Linked DNA regions of Homo sapiens: region 2 is linked to region 1. Evidence: fine-mapped expression QTL. A gene starts in region 1. The other region holds a variant in brackets. All regions are shown on one strand. Distances are from middle to middle.

What was found. PIP is the estimated chance that this variant, and not a neighbour inherited with it, causes the effect.
Region 2: its variant is fine-mapped to the expression of OTUD1 in whole blood (TOPMed, PIP above 0.99).

Annotation. Positions count from the first base shown.
Region 1 is chr10:23,437,386-23,440,287 of GRCh38, forward strand. It overlaps OTUD1 (OTU deubiquitinase 1), which reads left to right and starts at 1,690. Exons shown (of 1, transcript NM_001145373.3): 1 at 1,690-2,902. The coding sequence starts at 2,073. RefSeq lists silencers at 1,419-2,008, 2,059-2,398, 2,539-2,902.
Region 2 is chr10:23,851,907-23,854,808 of GRCh38, forward strand. It overlaps a transcript of KIAA1217 not described here. Among named protein-coding and RNA genes, the nearest start is that of KIAA1217, 360 kb to the right of the region's middle. The variant C/T (reference allele first, on the strand shown) is at 1,370.

The DNA.
Region 1 (2,902 bases):
ACCTGGATAGTAATCTTGGCTTCACCACTGTCTGACAAACCTTGGAAACTCGCTTTCCATCTACTCATTCACTTAGTAAATATTAATTAGGTCCAATTATGTGCCAAGCACGGTGTTAGGGGATGGAAATATAAGAGCAAGACCCAAGTCTCTCAATTCCTGGAATTCACATTCCACCGGAAAGGTGGGGACCGGAGTACAGCCTACATCACCTACAGGTTCAGTCTCCCTATCTCTAAAATGTTAGGACAACCTCTGGGTTCAATTCGAATGTTTAGGCCCTGTTAATTTAGCATTTGATCACAGCTCAGAATATAGCAAAAGTCTCCCACTACCTCTGGCTTTCCCTTACAAAGGCGGGTATTACAAAAAGACTCGGTAGAAGTATTTTCTATAGTCTATCTTGCCCCGGAATGCAGGTCACGACTTTCTCCACCGCTTTTGACCTCTGGCTAGCATTCACACCTATTCTCAAAGGGCCCTAAGTGATACTGCATTTGGTATTCTGAGAAAGCTTGTTTATAAAAGCCTAAAAGGCTTCCTTGCTTTCCCCCAAGCCAGATATTTGCCAAATGGCATAGGTCAGAGGTGCAAAGTTGGTTTTGTCTTAGCAAGGCAAGAGAATCCACTAGCGGACTCACCCTTACCGGTGAGTCCAAGGAAATGCATAGAAAAGACACAGTGGTAAAACTAGCTGGGCACCTGTAATCCCTGCCCAAGGCAAGGCTGAGGAAGGGGGATCACTTGGGCCCTGGAGGTCGAGGTCGCAGTGGGACATGATGGCGCCACTGCACTCAGCCTGGAAGGCAGAGCAAGACCTTGCCTCAAAAAGAAAAAGAAAAAAAAAAAAAGGAAAAGACGCGGCGGTTCCACGAGTGGTGGCTAGGACCCATAATCCCAACACTTTAGGAGGTCGAGGCGGGAAACAGCTTGAGGCCAGTAGTTCGACACCAGACTGGGCAACTGTGGTGAGACCCTCGCCTTAAAAAAAAAGAAAGAAAGAAAGAAAGAAAATTAGCCGGGTGCGGTGGTGCACACCTGTGGTTTCCAGTTACTCTGGAGGTTGAGGCGGGAGGATCGCTTGAGCCCGGGAAGTCAAGGCTGCAGTGAGCTATGGACTGCGCCACTACACTCTAGCTTCGGAGACAGGTAAGACCCCCATCTCTAAAAAGATAAAAGAAAAGAGGCAGTAGTGAATGCAAGCAGGGATGGTAGCCCATGACCAGCAGAGGCCAAACAGACTTTAAGGCAGCATTCCGTTCTCCACACCCATGCCGGAAGCTTTCCTGCCACGCAAGCTTTCCGAGCATGCTAACTCGCCCCAAGCAGCTCCCATCCCGCAGCATCCACTGCAGCCGCTGAGGAGAGTGGCGCAGCGCAGAAACCAGTGCCCAGTGCCCAGGTGGGGGAAGCGGTCCGTGGGAGTCACGTGGGCGGGAGGCCCAGCCAGGATCCCAGGACTGCTCAGGCCTCCGCGCCCCCGGCCTCGCCCCGCCCGCGCGCGCTCGCGCGCCGAGGGCCACGCCCGTGACGTCGGCGGAGCGCGGTAGGGGGCGGGGCGCGGGCCGGAGTGGGCGGGGCGAGCAGGCGCGACTGAATCGGGCGCCGCAAAGAGCCGCGCATTCCAGTGAGTCCACGTGACGCGGCCGCGAGGCCTGAGGTAAACAACCGCGGCCCCGCCTCCCGGGCCTCCGCGCGCACCGCGCTCCTCCTCGCCGGCGGGACGCGCTCCAACGGGGCGGGCGGCTTCCTCCGTGAGTCCCCAGCGGCCGCCGCGGGCCGAAGCAGCTGCAGCGGGCGCGGCGCCCCGGGTCTGCGGGCCGAGCGCACCGGCAGGGGTCGAGCTCGCGTCCCGTCCCCGCCCCCCTGCGCTGTGGCGCAGCAGGAATTTGGCCGGGACCCGGGCGCTATTCGCGGCTGCTGACTCGCGGCGGCCGGCTGCCTTTCGCTCATCTCTATTCTGGGGCCGTTGGGTCACCGCGCTCCGCCGGCCCCCTCCCCCGGGCCCGGAGGGTGTGTCCCCCGCTCCGGGGCTCGCCGCGCCTATAAGGGGCCGAGCGGCGGGCAGGGACATGCAGCTCTACAGCAGCGTCTGCACCCACTACCCCGCCGGGGCCCCGGGTCCCACGGCCGCCGCCCCCGCGCCACCCGCCGCCGCTACCCCCTTCAAGGTCTCGCTGCAGCCCCCGGGAGCCGCCGGCGCCGCGCCCGAGCCCGAGACCGGTGAGTGCCAGCCCGCCGCGGCCGCCGAGCACCGGGAAGCCGCCGCTGTCCCCGCCGCCAAGATGCCCGCCTTCTCCTCCTGCTTCGAGGTGGTGTCCGGGGCCGCCGCGCCCGCCTCCGCCGCCGCCGGCCCGCCCGGCGCGTCCTGCAAGCCGCCGCTGCCGCCGCACTACACGTCCACCGCACAGATCACCGTGCGGGCCCTGGGCGCCGACAGGCTCCTGCTGCACGGGCCCGATCCCGTTCCCGGCGCCGCGGGCTCCGCCGCTGCCCCGCGCGGCCGCTGCCTCCTGCTCGCCCCGGCGCCCGCAGCCCCGGTCCCGCCGCGGCGGGGCTCCTCGGCCTGGCTCCTGGAGGAGCTGCTGCGGCCCGACTGCCCCGAGCCCGCGGGCTTGGACGCGACACGGGAGGGGCCCGATCGGAACTTCCGACTGAGCGAGCACCGCCAGGCCCTGGCCGCCGCCAAGCACCGAGGCCCCGCGGCGACCCCGGGGAGCCCCGATCCCGGCCCCGGTCCGTGGGGCGAAGAGCACTTGGCGGAGAGGGGCCCCAGGGGCTGGGAGAGGGGCGGCGATCGCTGCGACGCGCCCGGTGGGGACGCGGCGCGGAGGCCCGACCCAGAGGCCGAGGCACCCCCCGCCGGGAGCATCGAGGCCGCCCCGAGTAGTGCGGCGGAGCC
Region 2 (2,902 bases), 410 kb after region 1:
ATATTAGCCCTTTGTCAGATGAGCAGGTTGTGAAAATTTTCTCCCATTTTGTGGGTTGCCTGTTCACTCCGATGGTAGTTTTTTTTTGCTGTGCAGAAGCTCTTTCATTTAATTAGATCCCATTTGTCAATTTTGGCTTTTGTTACCATTCCTTTTGGTGTTTTAGACATGAAGTCCTTGCCCACGCCTATGTCCTGAATGGTAATGCCTAGGTTTTCTTCTAGGGTTTTTATGGTTTTAGGTCTAAAGTTTAAGTCTTTAATCCATCTTGAATTAATTTTTGTATCAGGTGTAAGGAAGGGATCCAGTTTCAGCTTTCTACATATGGCTAGCCAGTTTTCCCAGCACCATTTATTAAATAGGAAATCCTTTCCCCATTGCTTGTTTTTCTCAGGTTTGTCAAAGATCAGATAGTTGTAGATAAGCGGCGCTATTTCTGAGGGCTCTGTTCTGTTCCATTGATCTATATCTCTGTTTTGGTACCAGTACCATGCCGTTTTGGTTACTGTAGCCTTGTAGTATAGTTTGAAGTCAGGTAGGGTGATGCCTCCAGCTTTGTTCTTTTGGCTTAGGATTGACTTGGCGATGCGGGCTCTTTTTTGGTTCCATATGAACTATAAGTAGTTTTTTTCCAATTCTGTGAAGAAAGCCATTGGTAGCTTGATGGGGATGCCATTGAATCTGTAAATTACCTTGGGCCGTATGGCCATTTTCACAATATTGATTCTTCCTACCCATGAGCATGGAATGTTCTTCCATTTGTTTGTATCCTCTTTTATTTCATTGAGCAGTGGTTTGTAGTTCTCCTTGAAGAGGTCCTTCACGTCCCTTGTAAGTTGGATTCCTAGGTATTTTATTCTCTTTGAAGCAATTGTGAATGGGAGTTCACTCATGATTTGGCTCTCTGTTTGTCTGTTGCTGGTGTATAAGAATGCTTGTGATTTTTGTACATTGATTTTGTATCCTGAGACTGCTGAAGTTGCTTATCAGCAGAAGGACATTTTGGGCTGAGACAATGGGGTTTTCTAGATATACAAGCATGTCACCTGCAAACAGGGTCAATTTGACTTCCTCTTTTCCTAATTGAATACCCTTTATTTCCTTCTCCTGCCTAATTGCCCCGGCCAGAACTTCCAACACTATGTTGACTAGGAGTGGTGAGAGAGGGCATCCCTGTCTTGTGCCAGTTTTCAAAGGGAATGCTTCCACTTTTTGCTCATTCAGTATGATATTGGCTGTGGGTTTGTCATAGATAGCTCTTATTATTTTGAGATACGTCCCATCAATACCTAATTTTTTGAGAGTTTTTAGCATGAAGAGTTGTTGAATTTTGTCAAAGGCCTTTTGTGCATCTATTGAGATAATCATG[C/T]GGTTTTTGTCTTTGGTTCTGTTTATATGCTGGATTACATTTATTGATTTGCATGTATTAAACCAGCCTTGCATCCCAGGGATGAAGCCCACTTGATCATGTTGGATAAGCTTTTTGATGTGCTGCTGGATTCGGTTTGTCAGTATTTTATTGAGGATTTTTGCATCAATGTTCATCAAGGATATTGGTCTAAAATTCTCTTTTTTGGTTGTGTCTCTGCCTGGCTTTGGTATCAGGATGATGCTGGCCTCATAAAATGAGTTAGGGAGTATTCCCTCTTTTTCTATTGATTGCAATAGTTTCAGAAGGAATGGTACCAATTCCTCCTTGTACCTCTGGTAGAATTCGCGTGTGAATCCATCTGGTCCTGGACTCTTTTTAGTTGGTAAGCTATTGATTATTGCCACAATTTCAGAGCCTGTTATTGGTCTATTCAGAGAGTCAACTTCTTCCTGGTTTAGTCTTGGGAGGGTGTGTGTGTCGAGGAATTTATCCATTTCTTCTAGATTTTTTAGTTTATTTGCGTAGAGGTGTTTATAGCATTCTCTGATGGTAGTTTGTATTTCTGTGGGATTGGTGGTGATATCCCCTTTATCATTTTTTATTGCATCTATTTGATTCTTCTCTCTTTTCTTCTTTATTAGTCTTGCTAGCAGTCTATCAATTTTGTTGATCCTTTCAAAAAACCAGCTCCTGGATTCATTAATTTTTTGAAGGATTTTTGTGTCTCTATTTCCTTCAGTTCTGCTCTGATTTTAGTTATTTCTTGCCTTCTGCTAGCTTTTGAATGTGTTTGCTCTTGCTTTTCTAGTTCTTTTAATTGTGATGTTAGGGTGTCAATTTTGGATCTTTCCTGCTTTCTCTTGTGGGCATTTAGTGCTATAAGTTTCCCTCTACATGCTGCTTTGAATGTGTCCCAGAGATTCTGATATGTTGTGTCTTTGTTCTCGTTGGTTTCAAAGAACATCTATATGTCTGCCTTCATATCATTATGTACCCAGTAGTCATTCAGGAGCAGGTTGTTCAGTTTCCATGTAGTTGAGTGGTTTTGAGTGAGTTTCTTAATCCTAAGTTCTAGTTTGATTGCACTGTGGTCTGAGAGACAGTTTGTTATAATTTCTGTTCTTTTACATTTTCTGAGGAGTGCTTTACTTCCAACTATGTGGTCAATTTTGGAGTAGGTGTGGTGTGGTGCTGAAAAAAATGTATATTCTGTTGATGTGGGGTGGAGAGTTCTGTAGATGTCTATTAGATCCGCTTGGTGCAGAGCTGAGTTCAATTCCTGGGTATCCTTGTTAACTTTCTGTCTCGTTGATCTGTCTAATTTTGACAGTGGGGTGTTAAAGTCTCCCATTATTATCGTGTGGGAGTCTAAGTCTCTTTGTAGTTCACTCAGGACTTGCTTTATGAATCTGAGTGCTCTTGTATTGGGTGCATATATATTTAGGATAGTTAGCTCTTCTTGTTGAATTGGTCCCTTTACCATTATGTAATGGCCTTCTTTGTCTCTTTTGATCTTTGTTGGTTTAAAGT